Linked DNA regions of Homo sapiens: region 2 is linked to region 1. The links come from fine-mapping of genetic effects on gene expression. A gene starts in region 1. The other region holds a variant in brackets. All regions are shown on one strand. Distances are from middle to middle. Region 1 holds the start of TLN1 (talin 1). Region 2 overlaps TLN1 (talin 1).

What was found. PIP is the estimated chance that this variant, and not a neighbour inherited with it, causes the effect.
Region 2: its variant is fine-mapped to the expression of TLN1 in whole blood (TOPMed, PIP 0.93).

What each region holds. Positions count from the first base shown.
Region 1 is chr9:35,726,988-35,735,705 of GRCh38, forward strand. TLN1 (talin 1) reads right to left here and starts at 5,208. Exons shown (of 57, transcript NM_006289.4): 1 at 5,088-5,208. It overlaps CREB3 (cAMP responsive element binding protein 3), which reads left to right and starts at 5,679. Exons shown (of 9, transcript NM_006368.5): 1 at 5,679-5,914; 2 at 6,009-6,156; 3 at 6,228-6,295; 4 at 6,409-6,498; 5 at 8,122-8,228; 6 at 8,319-8,387. The coding sequence starts at 5,786. MIR6853 (microRNA 6853) reads left to right here and starts at 5,935; the gene lies at 5,935-6,008. RefSeq lists enhancers at 207-920, 3,316-3,375, 4,765-4,814, 5,615-5,664, 5,715-5,804 and 1 more and silencers at 1-219, 4,995-5,284, 5,325-5,484.
Region 2 is chr9:35,701,718-35,710,435 of GRCh38, forward strand. TLN1 (talin 1) reads right to left here. Exons shown (of 57, transcript NM_006289.4): 34 at 6,624-6,767; 35 at 6,014-6,175; 36 at 5,631-5,771; 37 at 5,355-5,536; 38 at 5,051-5,183; 39 at 4,733-4,834; 40 at 4,479-4,649; 41 at 4,245-4,394; 42 at 4,033-4,134; 43 at 3,834-3,953; 44 at 2,952-3,098; 45 at 2,615-2,781; 46 at 2,274-2,457; 47 at 2,058-2,183; 1 more. Among named protein-coding and RNA genes, the nearest start is that of MIR6852, 4.7 kb to the right of the region's middle. The variant C/G (reference allele first, on the strand shown) is at 3,644.

The sequences.
Region 1 (8,718 bases):
CCTGACTGTATTTTCAGTGCAGCTCAGAATACTAGTCCTACCCCACCTTCTTCCACCCTCCTGGCACCCCCTCTCAGCAGGCTAGAGGAGGCACTGGAGGCAGCAGGTGGCGCACAGGCTGCAAGAGGACAAGTCTGCCCGGCTGCTGCTGATGTGCCCCTGCTTGGTACAGGGATTGGGTGCCTCTTAACTAAGAGAATGGGCAAATACAAGCTGCCCATTCCCCTCCTGGCAAACTACAAGCCTCAAATGGGGAAAAGCAGGGTGAGAGGGGAAGGCTGGAAAGCAGAGATGGGGGTGTTAGGATACAGAAGGCATTTGAAAGCCAGGGAAGTTAAGAAGGGGTAGAGGGTAAAGAAGTTAGGAGAGATGGGATGAGGAGAATTGAAAATCTAAGTAGAAACAAGAGACAGGAGGCAGGTATGAAAATGGTCTAGATCAGCGGTCTGGTACCAAGTGGCAGATAGACCATTTCTGACCTTACAAGCAGTCCAGAGTCTCAAAAGAGAAGAACCACAGCTCTCTGTCTTTACTCCCCAATAAGAGAGGACCCTCCCAGTCTCCCCAGTTCCAGCTCTCTGCCCCCTCCCCACTCCTGGGGCACTTTGCCCAACCTTATTACTATCCGCTTGTGTCCCAGCTGGACAGACCTGGCTATGGGGTTGCTGACCATGAAAGAATGAGGGCTGGGCTGGTGGATCCGAGAAGCTGGAGGAGTCTGTGGAGCCAAGAAGCAGGACTGAAAGGACCCTTCACACTAAGCTGAAACTGCATGTCTCCCCCCATTTCCTCTGGACACTTAGACACCCCCTTCCTCCTCAAGCACGGAAGCCTCTGGTGAGACCCCGATAAGGGAGCTGAGTCATGCCTACCCTTACTCCCCAGCTGGTCCAGAGTGGATATTCACACAGCTACAAGAGGGTGTGTGGACGCGAAGAACTGATCAGTGAATTGTGGGTGGTGGTGGCAAAGAACAAGGCTGCTACAAGTATGAGTAGAAGCTAGCTCATTCCTCCTTTGGCCTGAGAACTTTGCTCCCTTTTCCATTGTGTTTGATGGAACAGCAACTCCCCACTGCCGTGTCCCCCTCCCAGGGAACTCCTCCTCCCTCAATACATTCCTGCGATGCATTCCAAAGAAGTTGGGCAATTGGAGGGGGGGAATGGAGGACAGGAGGTCAAATCCCAGCAAGGAATGGAATGTAAGAGTATTGGAGCTAAGAAAGTTGGGGTACTTGGAGAATATAGTCAGAGCAGATACCCACAAGGGGAATTGCAGAAAGATAGGGAGTTACAGACAGGAACAAAAGGAAAGAGCTTAAGACAGTCAGAATATAAGAGGGATGGGGGAGTAACACTCAGTCTGTTACCAAATTTGGCCTCTGAGTCCGCAACCGCTGGCAGTGGGGGAGGGCTGTGGGTGAGACTGACATATCCGGCCTCAGGCTGCTGGAGACTCATTTAGAGCTGGACTGGGCAGCTAGCTGAAGGGCTGCACAGAACTTCCCCCGGTACAGCCCCTCCATACTCAAATGCACACTCATTCTCCCCAGATGCACCCCAGCCTAGGCAGAGCTCTTTCCCACAAAGCTACCTTACTCTCTCTATACACACATTATCTCAATCACACAGCCCCCACACAGATCCCATCACGACTGCATTATCTTCTCCTAGGGAGCCCATCCTATGCACACAGCTTTTGCACAGATAACCTCCATAACAAGCACACCCGGCACCCAGTGTCTCTCCTCCCATTATGTAGACATTCTCCATTCACCCAGCAAGCATTCCTTGAGGGCCAGCTGTGGGGAAGACCCTGGGCCAAACTTTCAGTGGCTGGGGACCAAGATCAGTAAGACCTAGCCTTTGAGTTCAAAGGGCTCCCAGTCCACGAGATGAGTGAATAAGCCAAGTACAGAATCACAACGGAGGGCAGGATGTGGTAAGAGCCAAAAGGTGTGTGCTCAGAGAGATCCCTTTAGGTCAGGGAAGGGGAACCAAAAAGTCTCCATGATAAGTATCATTTGAAGCTAGAATTTTAAAAAATAGAGATAATAAAAAACAATAGTGATCTGCCATTTATTGACTATGTCACTTGCATTGTATACATAATTTCATTTAATCCTTACAGTAGGTGTCATTATTTCCATTTTTACAGATCAGAAAACAGACTCAAAGATGTTAAATACTTGTTCAAATACTTCTCCAAATAATAAGTTGTGAAGCCAGGATCCGAACCCAGGTTTCTGACTGCAAAGCCCAAGCTTTCTCCACTACGCCAGCCAGCTGGAGATGTGTCAGGGGTAGTTTTCACTCCAGGCAGAGAAATAGCATAAGCAAAGATGGAGAAGCAGTAAATCGTGGAGGAGCATTCAGGGAAGTGAGCAGGCAGGCTGTTGAAGCACAGGGGTACCTGCAAGGGAGCAGTGGTGGGGAAGTCAGGGTTAGGATGGAAAGGCAGAGGAAGACTGGAGAGGGGTATGAGGAATTTTACTTATTGGAGGACAAAAGGAAGCCAAGGGAGTCTTTGAGCAGAGAAGAGACATAACCGGAACTGGATTTTAGAAAAATAACTCTGGCAGTTACCTTGGAGATTAGTTAGAAGGACACTGTATTAGTACAAATTAAAGGTAATGAAGCCGGAGTTGGAATGGCATTGAGGAAGATGTCACTCAGAACAAGTTTGGGGAGGTAGAAATGACAGGACCTAATAACTACTAAGGTAGACAGGTTAGAGTCCCACAGCTTCCTATCATCAGCAGCCACTTTAGCGGCTGGGGCAGCTTGAGTTTAGGCGACGAATTGGGAAGAGGGGAAAGGATCAGGTTGGGCAGAGAATGTGAGGATGAGGCTGTGGTTACGGGATGTGGTTAGGCTGTGGGGAAAAAGGGTATGAGTATATGATTAGTAGCCACTAGGGGCAGATGGGGTTGGGTTAGTGACTGCATCAGGCTGGGAATGGGGAAGACAGGGTGTAGAAAAAGGATGAGAAGACAGGGTGTAGAAAAAGAATGCTGGTGATGATGGTGTTTGGAAAAATACATATACATAAGATACATATATGACCAGTCACTGCATCAGGTTGGGGGAAGGGGAATGATTACATGGATGGTGGCTAAGTCAGGGAATGATGGGGTGAGGTCAGAGGCCAGGTCAGGCTATAGGAGGTTGAGAAGAGCTGGGCCTGTGGTCAGTCACTAAATCAGACTGGGGTGGGGGTGGGAAAGTGAAGGGACATTGGCAATGTCTAAGTAAAGCTGGAGCTGGGATGGGGGATGGGGTACAGCCAGTGGCTGGGTCAGGCTGAGTAGAGGATAGTGCTGTGGTCAGTGGCAGGGTCAGGCTGGGAGTGAAGTGGGGGTGTGGTCAGTGGCCTGGCTGGGCGTGGGATCAGCAAGACCCAGTTTCCTCTTTGGGTCTCGTTTCCTCTTTTCTGTTGGGGAGTGGGGGAAGGGGATCTACAAATGGTCCAAGAAATTAAAAGAGGCTTAGATCCAGGGGGTGACACACAGCAGGGGATGGGAGTAGGGTATTCAGCAGATGACCAGGTGGAATGTAGGTACATGACTGGGTGAAAATGGTAGGAGAGTAATTTAAAATGATGGGAAAGCTCAGGTTTTGATGAGGGTAAATTCAGGTAGGATGTGCGGATTAAAGGTTGGTGAGGGAGGTAGAACTAAGGATGGGAACGGATGATAAGATGAGCATGGGAGAGTTAAAGGCAAGGGAAGTATTTTGTAAGGGGATAGGCAGGATGGGTGTGAAATGCAGAGTCAGGGATGAGAGTTGGAGAGGAGGGCTTAATACCAAGAGAACAAGTGAAGTGGGAGAAGCAGGGCTAAACTTTCAGGGGATTCAGTTATTCCCTTCTCCCATGGCAACAGTGATTCCTTGGTTAGCTTCCCCCATAGTCATCAGCTCCTTCTTCCCTAGGCAGTCCCCAACTTGTGACTAGGCCTTGTACATCCTGGGTCCCTATTTCCCACCTATGTTGTCTGTAAACAACACAGTCCAGAATCTCTGTCCCCTAACTGTGGTGGCCACAGCAAGGGCCTTGGGCTTAGAGAATGGAATAAAGAAGCTGGAATCCCAGATGCCTGCAATTCTAGCTAAAGCCAGAACGCTAGCCTGAAATTAGTTTATCTCTCTGGGTAAAAAGAAGCCCCTGTAACTACATAGGAATAAAGGATTTCCCTACAAAAGAAGGGCATTTACCTACTGCCAACCTCTTAAATTTTATCTGCTCAAGGTCAACTATGCTAGCCTCAAACCACAACCCCTAAAGCTGCCCCAAATTCCTAACATTAACCCCACCTCTAATTTGTTTCCTGATTCCCAGTACCGGCTTGGACATTCATCCCTTTCCTAGCACAGACTCATATCCAATCCCTGATCCCTGAAACTGATCTAAGTTTTGCCTTTAGCACCAAATCCCCTGATGTTAACCCTAAATGTTGACCCCTAAGCCTAAAGTTCATTTATAATTTGATTCCTAACTCACGCTTTCACTGTTTATCCTTAACACCGACCATGCCAACATTCTTTAATCCCTCAAACAAGCTCTAACCTGATTCCTGTTGTTTGTTGACCCTTAACCTGACCCTGAACTCAAATTATGACGTATGATGGCCATCCCAGCAAACAAGATAATGACCGTAATCTAAACCTTACCTATCTAAAACGGACCTGACTCACACTAACTCTTAAGTTTTAACCCCAGCTTTTAACTCCTATAGCGACCCTTGATTCCTAAACGGACCCCACCTAATCCCCAACTCACCCAAAGCTTTCCTACCCACATGCCCGCTATCAGCTAACACCAAAGCCCGTCCCCGCCCTGCGCCCCGCTGCCACCCGACTCCTCACGCTCCCCAAAGCCTATCCCAGACATAGGACTGCTCCCAGGAAAGGCCTGTCTTCCCCAAGACGGCCTACTTCACGCCGAGCTCAAGCCGAGATGCGCTGGACGCTGACCTCTCCAACTAATAGGACCCGAACCGGACACGCAAGAGAGGCAGGGCCCGCCCGCCCCGGGGCCAGGCCCCGCGGCCCCACCCTAAGGCCCCCGCCCGGCCCGGTCTGGCCTACCTGCGCTGCCTGGCTCTGCGCCCCGCCCGCCGGCCCGCCGCCCCGCCGCTTCTCGGGTCGCCCTCGGGCTCCGGCCTCGCCCTCCCTTCGACACTCTCTCGGCCACTTCCGTCCTGGGAACGTCCCCCACCCGCGGGCGGCGCCCTGGGCCCGCGCTCTATGGTCGCGGGGGGCAGGCAGGAAGCTGCTCTGGCCCCGTTCTCGATGCTCGGGAGCCGCCAAAGCCCGGCAGCCCCTCCCTGGCAGGAAGCGAGGGTGCGGCGCAATCCGGAGAGGACGCCAGGACGACGCCCGAGTTCCCTTTCAGGCTAGAACTCTTCCTTTTTCTAGCTTGGGGTAGAAGGCGGAGCCGGAGCCCCGGAACCCCCGCCCTCGGGGTGCGAGGCGGCAGCAGGGCCGTCCCCTACATTTGCATAGCCCCTGGGACGTGGCGCTGCACCCAAGCCTCTTCTCAGTTGGAGGGAACTCCAAGTCCCACAGTGCCACGGGGTGGGGTGCGTCACTTTCGCTGCGTTGGAGGCTGAGGAGAATTGAGCCTGGGAGGCGGGTCCGGAGAGGGCTATGGAAAGCCGCCGGCGGGGAATCCCGGCCGTAGAGGGACAGTGGATAGGTGCCCGAGGCCTACAGCTGGCCTGGGGCTCGTGTCTGGGCTTCGGACGTTGGGGCCCGGTGGCCCACCCTTTCCGTAGTTGTCCCAAATGGAGCTGGAATTGGATGCTGGTGACCAAGACCTGCTGGCCTTCCTGCTAGAGGAAAGTGGAGATTTGGGGACGGCACCCGATGAGGCCGTGAGGGCCCCACTGGACTGGGCGCTGCCGCTTTCTGAGGTAGGTTGGGGTTCTGACTGGGGAAAGCGTGGGATGTCCATGAAGTCAGGTGATGGTGATAAGGTCAAGGCCTGTTCATTGGAACCCTGCGCAGGTACCGAGCGACTGGGAAGTAGATGATTTGCTGTGCTCCCTGCTGAGTCCCCCAGCGTCGTTGAACATTCTCAGCTCCTCCAACCCCTGCCTTGTCCACCATGACCACACCTACTCCCTCCCACGGGAAACTGTCTCTATGGATCTAGGTGAGTCTGAAATAAGTTTGCGGGGAGGACAGGGTTCATGGGCCTGGCTATTCATACTTTCCCTTTTGCAGAGAGTGAGAGCTGTAGAAAAGAGGGGACCCAGATGACTCCACAGCATATGGAGGAGCTGGCAGAGCAGGTACTTGACTTGATTTTCAGGAGATTACTCTCACATTCCCCAGGTGGGGGCAGGATTCCCCATTCCTCTCTGACATCCCCATGCAACTGCCGTCCACTTTCTTGTTACCCTAGGAGATTGCTAGGCTAGTACTGACAGATGAGGAGAAGAGTCTATTGGAGAAGGAGGGGCTTATTCTGCCTGAGACACTTCCTCTCACTAAGGTAAGACTCTCATTGGTTGAACAAAGGCTGAAAAGGGATTAAAAGTCCCAAGTAGGCAAATTCTGTTAACTTTATATCAATAACTTTAAAAAAGGATTGAGGTGAGAAACTTAGTAGATTTATTGCTAATAGGAAGTTGAGGCAGGTACACAATATGCCAGATGCAAGGGCAGATCCTCGTTTTTGTTGGGCTTATACAAATTTTGGTGTTCTGTTAAAAAAATAACTCAAAATTATCAGTGCAACATTAGTATTGGGCCTTGGAAAGGACTGTGTAAGTGAAGGGCCTTGACACTTCGTTGGCTTCATAGTAATCCACCTCTTGCTGAATGGTAGAACTGTTTAGAGAGTTCAACAGGGTTGGACTAAGCAGTACATGAATAAATGTAAAATCCTTAGTTTTCAGTTTTAAGCAATGAGTGGCAACTTCACAAGCAGAGTACTGGGGTACTATGATGAAATCAGTGCTCATTAATAGAAAGGTTACAGGAATATATATATATTTTTTGACAAGGTCTTGCTCTGTTGCCCAGGCTGGAGTGCACTGATGTGATCATGGCTCACTGCAGCCTTGACTTTCTGGGCTTAGGTGATTCTCCCACCTCAGCCTCCCGAGTAGCTGAGACTACAGGTGCACACTACCCTGCCCGGCAATTTTTTTTTTGGTATTTTTAGTAGAAATGGGGTTTTGCCTTGTTGCCAGGCTGGTCTCGAACTCCTGGGCTCAAGTGATCTACCCACCTTGGCCTCCCAAAGTGAAGAATTTTAATTTCTTCAAAGTACAAGATGAGTCAGCAGTGTGATGTGGCTACTAAGAAAGTTCATGGGATTTGGAAACTGTAGCAATAGAGTTATTGTCTCTACAAGTCACTCTCTTGCTTTCCTTGATACTGGCTAGAGCACATCTTTGACAGATACTAAGAGGATGCAGTCTATCCTGAGAAGATGAGTTAAAAATTTTGTCTTTTTTTTTTTCTTTAAGCTCTGAGGAAATGTTAAGTGCCTTAAAATAGCTAAACAGGGTTTATTCTATTTGGCCCCAGAGATACTAGGTAAGTCCAACGGATAGAAATTATAAGGAGGCAGCTGTTGGTTCAGGATAAGGAAGTTTTTATTTGCTTGTTTGAAGACAGGTTCTTGCTTTATTGCCCAGGTTGGAGAATAGTGGCGAGATCATGGCTCACTACAGCTTCAACCTCTCAGGCTCAAGTGATCCTCCTTCCTCAGTCTCCTGAGTAGCAGGGACCACAGGCATGTGCCACCACACCCGGCTAATTTTTTATTTTTAGTAGAGACAAGGTCTCACTATGTTGCTCAGGCTGGTCTCAAACTCCTGGGCTCAACCGGTCCTCCTGTCTTAGCTCCCCAAAGTGTTGGGATTACAGGCATGAGCCACGTCGCCTGAATACTGCCCGACCAGTTTTTTTTTTAATAGTTTAAAATGGTCTGGCTTGTTAGGGTTAACACCTGGTCCGTGGAGGCATTCAGAAAGAATCTGAATGCCTGTTGGTCAGGGAAGCTGTAGAAGGGATTTCTGTATTGGAAAGAGATTGATCTCAGTTGCGTTTCAACTCCTTTTTCTAGAGTTCCTCTAATGATATCCCTTTCCCTGTTTCCTTTCAGACAGAGGAACAAATTCTGAAACGTGTGCGGAGGAAGATTCGAAATAAAAGATCTGCTCAAGAGAGCCGCAGGAAAAAGAAGGTGTATGTTGGGGGTTTAGAGAGCAGGTATGAAAGGGAGAGGGACTCTGTTGTAAGTATTAGGTTTTTGAAGGGAGGATACAGGCCATATCCCCGTATCTTTGTTATTTCCCCCAGGGTCTTGAAATACACAGCCCAGAATATGGAGCTTCAGAACAAAGTACAGCTTCTGGAGGAACAGAATTTGTAAGTATCCCTCCAAACCATTCCCTTCCTATGCCCCTCATTTAATGCTTTCTCACTCTTTCCCCTGCCCTACACTTGATTTCTAACTGGGCAGCTGCCTTCACTAGGTCTCTGATTCCAAGAAGCTCCCAGTAGTGAGGAATACATTTACAAGTAACTAAGAATAAGTTAAGTACCAAGAAAAAGAAAGGGGGTAAGAAAGACGTCATGGGCTTTCATAGTAGTTAGGATTCTGGGGTTGGGTTGGGAAAGCATTCTAGGCAGAGAGAAAGCATCCTAGGCAAGAGGACTAGTCCAGCATAGTCATCTTGGGCTGGAACTCTTAACACAC
Region 2 (8,718 bases), 25 kb before region 1:
GTAGGAGATAAAAAGAAAAAATGAGCTGTATTTGGAAGGGGCACTAGCAAAACTTAGATGTGGGGAATGAGAGAAAGAGAGAAGTCTAATATATTGAAGCTAGGTTTCTGGCTTTAGGAACTGAGTTACTAAGAGGTGCCATTTACTGAGATGGGGGAAGACCAGGAAAGGACCAGGTATGGGAGGCAGAAAGTCAAGAGTTCCAACTTGGACATCTTCAAGTAAAAGTGAAAACAGAACCTTAGAAAGATGCATTTAGAAATTAGAAAGATGAGTAGGGAGAGAGGAGAGTGGCAGGGACCAGAAGCAGGGAGACCAGGGAGAAAACTGGTGCCACAGCCAAATTGCGGGAGAGTATGGAAGTGTGAACCAGAGTGCGGACAGGGAACCAGGGAGGAGGAATGAAAGGACGTGGCAACAGCCTGGATATGGTGGCTAAGATGGTGAAGTCAAAGATGACTGAGGTGGAATCTTCATGACTGCAAGGGTGTTCCCACCATTAGGAGGACCATGTCATGGTTCGGAGGCACTGCATCTAGGTGGTGATGTCAAACAGGCAGTTGAAAATAACTCAACTCAGAACTGGATGTCTGCTTCTTACAGAATAATAATGAAAGTGGTTAAACTTGCCAAAGAAGAGAAGAGAGAAGGAAGACTATTTGTACAACCCTGGGAAGGCCTCCACATTTACTAAGTTAAAGGTGATTCAATGACGTTCGAGAAACAAGAGAAAAGCCAGTATCTAGGCCAAGGGAAGAAAGAATTTCATTTTTTTTCTTTTTTGTTTTTTTTTGAGATGGAGTCTCACTCTGTTGCCCAGGCTGGAGTGCAGTGGCGCCATCTTGGCTCACTGCAACCTCTGCCTCCCGGGTTCCAGCGATTCTCCTGCCTTAGCCTCCCAAGCAGCTGGGACTACAGGCGCGTGCCACCACGCCCAGCTAATTTTTGTATTTTTAGTAGAGACGGGGTTTCACCATATTGGCCAGGCTGGTCTCGAACTCCCGACCTTGTGATCCACCCGCCTCAGCCTCCCAAAGTGCTGGGATTACACCCGCTGGCCTCCCAAAGTGCTGGCGTGAGCCACCATGCCCAGCAGAAGAAAGAATTTCAAAGAGAGGCTTGTTAACACAGTCAGATGCTTTCGAAATATTCAAAGAGGATGAAGGCCAAGAAGTGGCCACTGAATGTAGCAACTAAGAAGAGGCCACTAGTGACTGGAGAAAGTGGGAGGGTGGTGAAAAAATACAGTTGTCACATGCTAAGGAATAAACAAGTGGGTAGGGGACAGACATGAATGTAGCTCACTGGCACAGTGGCTCATGAGTGTAATCCCAGCACTTTGGGAGGCCAAGGCGGGTGGATCACTTGAGGCCAGGAGTTCGAGACCAGCCTGGTCAACATGGTGAAACCCCATCTCTACTAAAAATACAAAAACTAGCCAGCATGGTATGCACCTGTATTCCCAGTGACTCAGGAGGCTGAGGCATGAGAAGCACTTGAACCTGGGAGGTGGAGGTTGTAGTGAGCTGAGATCACGCCACTGCACTCCAGAAGGAGGGTGTGGGAGAGCTGGGGTAGGGGAAGTCACATGGTGACTGAGGAAGATGCCATGTGAAATGGAAAGGTCACCCACACCTGGGAGAAATGACAAGAGGAGAGGGCTGAGAAGGCTGGAGGAGGATGGCTACAGAGCAAGACCCTTCTCAAAAAAAAAGTCTGGCGATAGATGAGAGAGAAGACTGTGTGTGACTCCAGCTGTGAGTATATGTGTGGCACAGGTTCACAGGCTTTCAGGATCCCTCTCTCTGACCCTAGTCACTGATGCCCCAGACTCTCACTCACCGCCAGCTCCTGCCGTATGTGTTCTGTGGTTGCCTCCAGGGCCCGAGTGCCTTTGGTGGCCTCATCTTCCACGGCTTTTACTGTCTTAAGCAATGATGTCACATTGGTCACCATCACCTGGAGGTATCAGAGGAGTGAAGAGGAATGATTTTAAGGAACAGGAGGAAGTATGTTAATCCAGTGCCCCTCCTGATGTTGCTCTCATTCTCTCCAACCTTGGCAGAGTTCTTTAGCTGCCACACAGCAGGGTCATCTCCAACTTTGCCAGCTGCAGCCTTCGTTGCACTGATGAGGTCTCCCAGGGCTTTGGCTACATCTTTCACTGCGTTGATTAGTACCACCTGTGTGGGAAAGCGTTGGCTCTGGTCTATGGGAGGAAGAAGCGGGACAGGAAGTGATTCCAGCCGGAATTAGGGGCATCAGGTCACTACCTGGGTCTCAGGGTCCTCAGCTCCCAGGCTGGCTGCACCCAGCTTGACCACATCAGCGAGGCGGGTGATGGTCGCCACGGAGGACTGGGCAGCCTGCGCCAACTTCTCCTGGCTCCCAGCTGCGTTTTGCACCAGGACCTTGGTGTCCTCCACCAGCACCTTCGCAGTCTTCAGGATGCCCTCCCTGAGGGAGGGCCCAGCTTAGTCAGATCTCCCCTACCCGCTCCAGCCCGTCCAAGGTGCCTGGTCCAGGTCTTCCCCATTCCAGCGAATGCTATCCTGCCTCTTCCAGCCCCGTGCCCCGACCTGTCTGCCTCCCTTAGGCCCAGTTCCTGTCTTACCGGTGGTCAGCGAAAGTTTCAGTACCCTCACGATTGAGCGTGCCAGCAGTGGCGAACATGATGGTGGTGTCGAGGTCAGCAATGATACCAGACACAGCGCTGGCTGCTGTGATGCAGGCCTGGGTGCCACGATTCCCAGCCTGGAGCGCAGCCAGGACGTGGGAGACCTGGGTAGGGAATGTCACATGGTGACTGTGGAAGGTGCCATGTGAAATGGAAAGGTTGCCCATGCCTGGGAGAAGTGACAACAGGAGAGGGCTGAGAGGGCTGGAGGAGGATGGCAAAGGCTACAGAGTTTGGAGGCAGTCCCACCATCTGCAGGGATGAGCACCGTCACCTTCTCAGAGACTCTCCGGGCACACTCTATGAGCTCCTTCTTGGTGTAGGCATCACTGGGGCTGCACTGCAGGGCGCCTGCCTTGGTGACCAGAGCGGCACAGCCATGGCCCAGCTCCTGTACCCGGTGTTTGATATGGGAACCTATCTGTGAGCCAAGGGAAAGACAGATGGATTTTACAAGGGGCACTCAGGGTACCTTCACTGTGCTTGGAAAAGTCACTAAGGACATAGAAAAAAACATGCATTGTAGACTAAAGAAGCAGAGAGAGAAGGTTCCCAGCACAAGGACGTTTCCGGTTGCATATCCTTTAGGCAGAAGGTCACCTCCTACACACAGAAAATAGTAGCACGCAGGCACTAAGTGGTGAGGATTGTGTTAAGCACAGTGGGGAGAAGGGGAGGAGCACTTTATGCTTGAATGTGGGAATCAGAGGGCCGTGGATTACCATGTGGCCTGTATGGGGTTATGGAGGGTTTTAAGGATGGGCATTACATGTGTCCTGCTAAGATCCAATTACTTGCTTTCTTGGAAAGCTAGAGGCTTAGGTAAGGAAGAGCTTCATGAGTTTGCAACAAGAAAGAACAAGAACATGGACTGGCAGCACAACAGAGAAGCAGCTGTAGGCCCAGATGAGGGTCGGCAGAAGCCAGAAAGGCAGGCCCGGGAAGGCTCCAGATTCTGAGCTGTTT[C/G]CTTTGTACCTGTGACTGAAGGCTTTGATCCTCTGTCCCTACCCAGAGCCTCACTAGTCTTCAGCAGAGTGGCCCTGAGGCTGTTCCCCTTTCTATGAAAGACCAGAGAGGGTGGGGGTGGGACAGCCCTAGACACTGACACATCAGGAACAAGGGGCAGGGGGCAGGGCAGAGTTGCCTCCACGTTTACCTCTTCATTTTCAGCAGCCACCGCTGCAGGCTTGGCCTCCGAGGCCAGACGGCCATAGTCACTGGTCAGCTGGTTAGCAAGAGGGCCCAGCTCCTCTGGGCTGGTGTTTGACTTGGTAACCTGGTGATAATGGAACGAGTGAAGTTATATCCAAAGTCAGCTCTCCGAGGGCAGTCCTCTGGGACTCGCCCAAACTCACCATCTCCTGAACGGTCACTGCAATGGCCTTGGCTGTCCGCACCATAGTTGTTTGGTAATCCACGAAGGAACCTTCTGGTTCACCCATTGGTCCTTCATCTAGCTGAGGGGGGAGGATAGGGAAAGGGAAAGACTGTTAGGGTCTCTGCCACTGTGCTTGGAGGCTCTGGCCCAGGGTAGCCTCAGTGTCCAAAGGCACCCCAAGACTCTAACCTGGTTGATGGCCTGGGTGATGGAGTCCACCATGCCACCCACGACCCCAGCAGCACTGGCTGCCTCGTTGAGGGTTGTTGTCAGGTCCTCTACGGCCTCGGTCATCATCTGCACAGCCTCCTCCAGGGCTTCCTGGGTGTGAGCTGCTTGCTGTGGGGAGAGGAGAGGAGCTCTGTTGTTCCTGTTTCTCCAGCCTCCTGCTAGTAACAGCTCCTCCCTCCCAACCCTCAATACCTTTGGGTTACCACCAGCCTCCTTGGCAGTGTATAGCAACTGCAGGGCAGACTCTGCCAATGTTTTAGTCTGGTCCAGGAGTGCCATCTGCTGCGGGTGGCTCAGGGTCTTGGAGGCAGCACCCACTGCAGCCAGGGTGAGCGGCTCAAAGTACTGCGCCATCTGGGACACCTGAGGCAAGGGGTTGGACTAGGGGTCAGGTCCCCTCTCTCTCACCCTACTCCCTGGGACTTCCCATGAGTCTCCATAGGTACCTTGTGTCCCAGCTGGGAGGCTTCAGCCCGGGCAGCATTGGCCAGCGGCTCAATGAGATGGGAGATCTCTTGGACTGCAGTGAGCATCTGAGTGTGCAAGGCCTGGGGAGGAAGTGGACATTAGCCCTGATGGTGACCTGCAATAGGACCCTCTGGCTACAAAGAACTGCTCTTCTGTCCATACCAAATACCCTAACCCTCCTTCGCACATCCCAGCCTTTGATGTCCCTAAGAAGCCACTCCTTGATCCCCCAGCTTCTTTGAGTCTGATATTTCTCTTCCTAGACACATCTTTCCATATAACCCTCTCCCTCTCACCTCTTGAGAGATTCCCTCACGGGGAGCAAGCTGCTGGCTGACTGCAGCGAGGGAAGCCTGGTCTAGGTCCCGTAGACAACTGTTCAGAGCTGCAATGGCCGTTTCACACTCCAGCTGCCCTGGAGCCTTGTCCCTGCAGACACATCATGGGCTCCAACACCAAGAACATCCCCTACTGCAAGGCCAGCCTATCCTTCCCCTGTATCCTCCCAACACCATCCCATCTCATTGCACTCAAGTGCCCATCCTCCATTCTGCCACAATGTATGCCCCCCAGCCACACTGGTTCCCCATCCCTCAATACCTCATGCTTGTAATTAGCTTCTTGATGGAGTCTGAGACAGTACGGGAGTGGCCGGCCAGCACCGACCAGCTCGGGGGGTCCCGGGGATTGACTGCGAGGGCCCGGGCTGTCTGGATGAGTCCCCCGGCACTCTCTAACATTGTCTTGGCAGAGATCACAATGGGCTCCATGGCAGCCCGACCCTGGGGAGAGGGGAGGCAGGAAGGTAAGTCTCAGGAGTCCCTGGAAGATGAGGTGATAAGCTGGCCCATCAGTTCCCCCTTCACATCGCCTCACCTCAGGGCTGATCTGGGCAGGAATGCTGGAGAACTCAGGGTTGGACGCAAAGGCACTCAGATTGTCCACAGCCTCCAGCAGAGGGGCTGTTGCTGCTCGGCACTGGGCACGGTTCTCCTCTGTGAAGGCCCCATCTAGCGCCTAGAAGTGACAGAGAGGCTCTCAGGACTTGGGATGCAGTCATAGGGGGTATAGGAAGTGAAGTCCAGGTCTCCTTCCTGGGACTTACAGGATTTGGGGAGAGGCTAGGTGGTCAGTCTGAATAGAAAGAGCTTGGGCTCAGGCAGAGGGGATTTGGTAGAAGGCTTCAGAGAATAACTGGGGGACTCGGGGGAGAAGATAGGACAGGTCAGGGAGAGGCTGGGAATTCAAGCAATGGGAACCTTGATGGTCTTGACAAGATTAGCTGTGCTGTTGGCCACCTCCTTGGCTGACTGTACAAACTGGCGCTTGGCAGTAGGATTGGTGGTACGGGCAGAAGCCAGGCGACAGCTGTTACACAGTGCAGAGGTGTGTTTAGCCACAATGGTGGCTGCAGAGAGCACCTGAGGAGACACATGGAAGAGCCACGATGAGGGCAGGAAGGAGGTGTACATACCCAAGGAGGAGCCATTTTAGGGTCAGGGGATGGAGAGCAATACCCTGAGGAGTCAAAACAGGAATAACAGAGTCACCTGAAAAGTCAAGATCTAGGAGACAGAGATACCCAAAGATGAACTGGGCATGGGAGAGGAAAGACATACTAATGGAGAAACCATAAGAGGGCATGTGGGAGAGTAAGCTCGAACATCTACAGAGAAGTTGTGAATTTAGCAGTAACTGATAAATGATGAGACCCATGGCAGAAAAAGACAGTTACCCAAAAAGAAGCTGTGTGTGCAAGGTCAGAGATGGGTCCCTGCCCTCTTTCCCACATGCCTCACCTCCCTCTACTCCACGGGGTCGGTCTGCCCTTTCCCAGACTCGCCTGTGGTCCCTGTTCCCTTGAGTTACCTGGGCCTGGGTACAGCCAGGCTCTCCCAAACTCTGGCAGGCCATCTGAATTGCCTGGTTTGCACGGGCAAACTGTGTGGGCTCCACTAGCCCTTGCTGTCCAGCTTGGCTATTGGGGTCAGAGACACCAACCAGATATGCAGCCTGGGAAGAGAAAAGGGGGTGGGGGTGAGGAATAAAGATTGCAGGTGGGAAATGAATAGTGATAGTAGGGACAAAAGAGAGCAGAGGTAAGTTTAGAGAATAGGGCTTATTTTCCAGAGTTCTCCATGAGTGGAGATACATTAGCAAACAATGGTTACACTATAAAGAAGAAAAAAAATACTCTCCTGTTTTCATTAAGTATATTCAAGCATTTCAGAAGATTAAAAAAGTTAATAAAAAGGAAAACTACATAGCAAGGGTTTTTATCCAATCTCTATTTAGATATGTTTGTGTATGTTGGGTCTTAGAGTGAAAAGTATGGCTTACTGTAAGTAGCAGTAAAACGTTTGAGAGCCATATATAAATACACACCTTTGTGCACACAAGCAAAGCCTCTTTTAAAGACAGTTCAAAACTGATGAAGGTTATTAGGCTAATTCACATTTATAGCACCTCCATGCGTCAGATATTTGGAAAGGAAGGGAGGGGTTAAAAAGCCATTTTTATGATGGAAAGAACATCCTAATGTTTGATTCATACTTCAATCAATACACAGTAGCTTTGCTTTTTCCTCTATGCATTTTCAGAAGGTGGGGGGAAAAAAACCAAACAAACAACAAAGAGGTTTAGTGAAACCCTGTCTCTACTAAAAATACAAAAATCAGACGGGTGTGGTGGCAGGCGCCTGTAGTCCCAGCTACTCGGGAGGCTGAGGTAGGAGAATCACTTGAACCCGGGAGGCGGAGGTTGCAGTGAGCCGAGATTATGCCTCTGCACTCCAGCCTGGCGACAGAGCGAGACTCCGTCTCAAAAAACAAACAAACAAAAAACCAAAAAAACAAAAAAACAAAATCAAACAAGCCATCTAGAGCAAGGCGCCTATTCTGACAGGGCACAGGGAGGTGGTGGAGATGGAGGGCTAGGATGGTAGGCTTTCAGGGAAAATAGTCTGAAGTGAACTCTTATGATGCCAGTTTGTTTTAAGGATTCATATACTAAAGCAAAATACTTTACAGCTAATAGGTAGTTTTATACTTGATAATGTGGGAAAAGGCAAAGTTAAGTGATAACTCAAGTAACTGGAAATTTTGTCACTAGTACTATTTTAAGAAAGTAGTGATTGGCCGGGCGCGGTGGCTCACGCCTGTAATCCCAGCACTTTGGGAGGTCGAGACGGGCGGATCACGAGGTCAGGAGATCGAGACCATCCTGGCTAACACGGTGAAACCCCGTCTCTACTAAAAATACAAAAATTAGCCGGGCATGGTGGCGCGCGCCTGTAGTCCCAGCTACACGGGAGGCTGAGGCAGGAGAATGGCGTGAACCCGGGAGGCGGAGCTTGCAGTGAGTCTAGATCGCGCCACTGCACTCCAGCCTGGGCGACAGAGCGAAACTCGGTCTCAAAAAAAAAAAAAAAAAAAAAAAAAAAAGAAAGTAGTGATTACAGGCCAGGCGCGGTGGCTCACGCCTGTAATTCCAGCACTTTGGGAGGCCGAGGCAGGTGGATCACGAGTCAGGATATCGAGACCATCCTGGCTAACATGGTGAAACCCTGTCTTTACTAAAAAAAAAAAAAAAAATACAAAAAATTAGCCGGGTGTGGTGGTGAGCGCCTGTAGTCCCAGCTACTTGGAAGGCTGAGGCAGGAGACTAGCGTGAACCCGGGAGGCGGAGCTTGCAGTGAGCCTAGATCACGCCATTGCACTTCAGCCTGGGCGACAGAGCGAAACGCTGTCTCAAAAAAAAAAAAAAAAAAAAAGAAAGTAGTAATAACATGAAAAAATAGTTTGTATAAGCTAATTAGTATATTTTGAGAAAGCCAGCTGGAAAAGGCCTCACGGTTGGGCAGTGTAATCCTAACCAAAGTACCAGGGTTCAGGAATTACAGAAATCAGAACTGCTGGTGTTCAGTAATTGCTGACAAGTGTCTCCACTTCAGGAGGAGGACAAC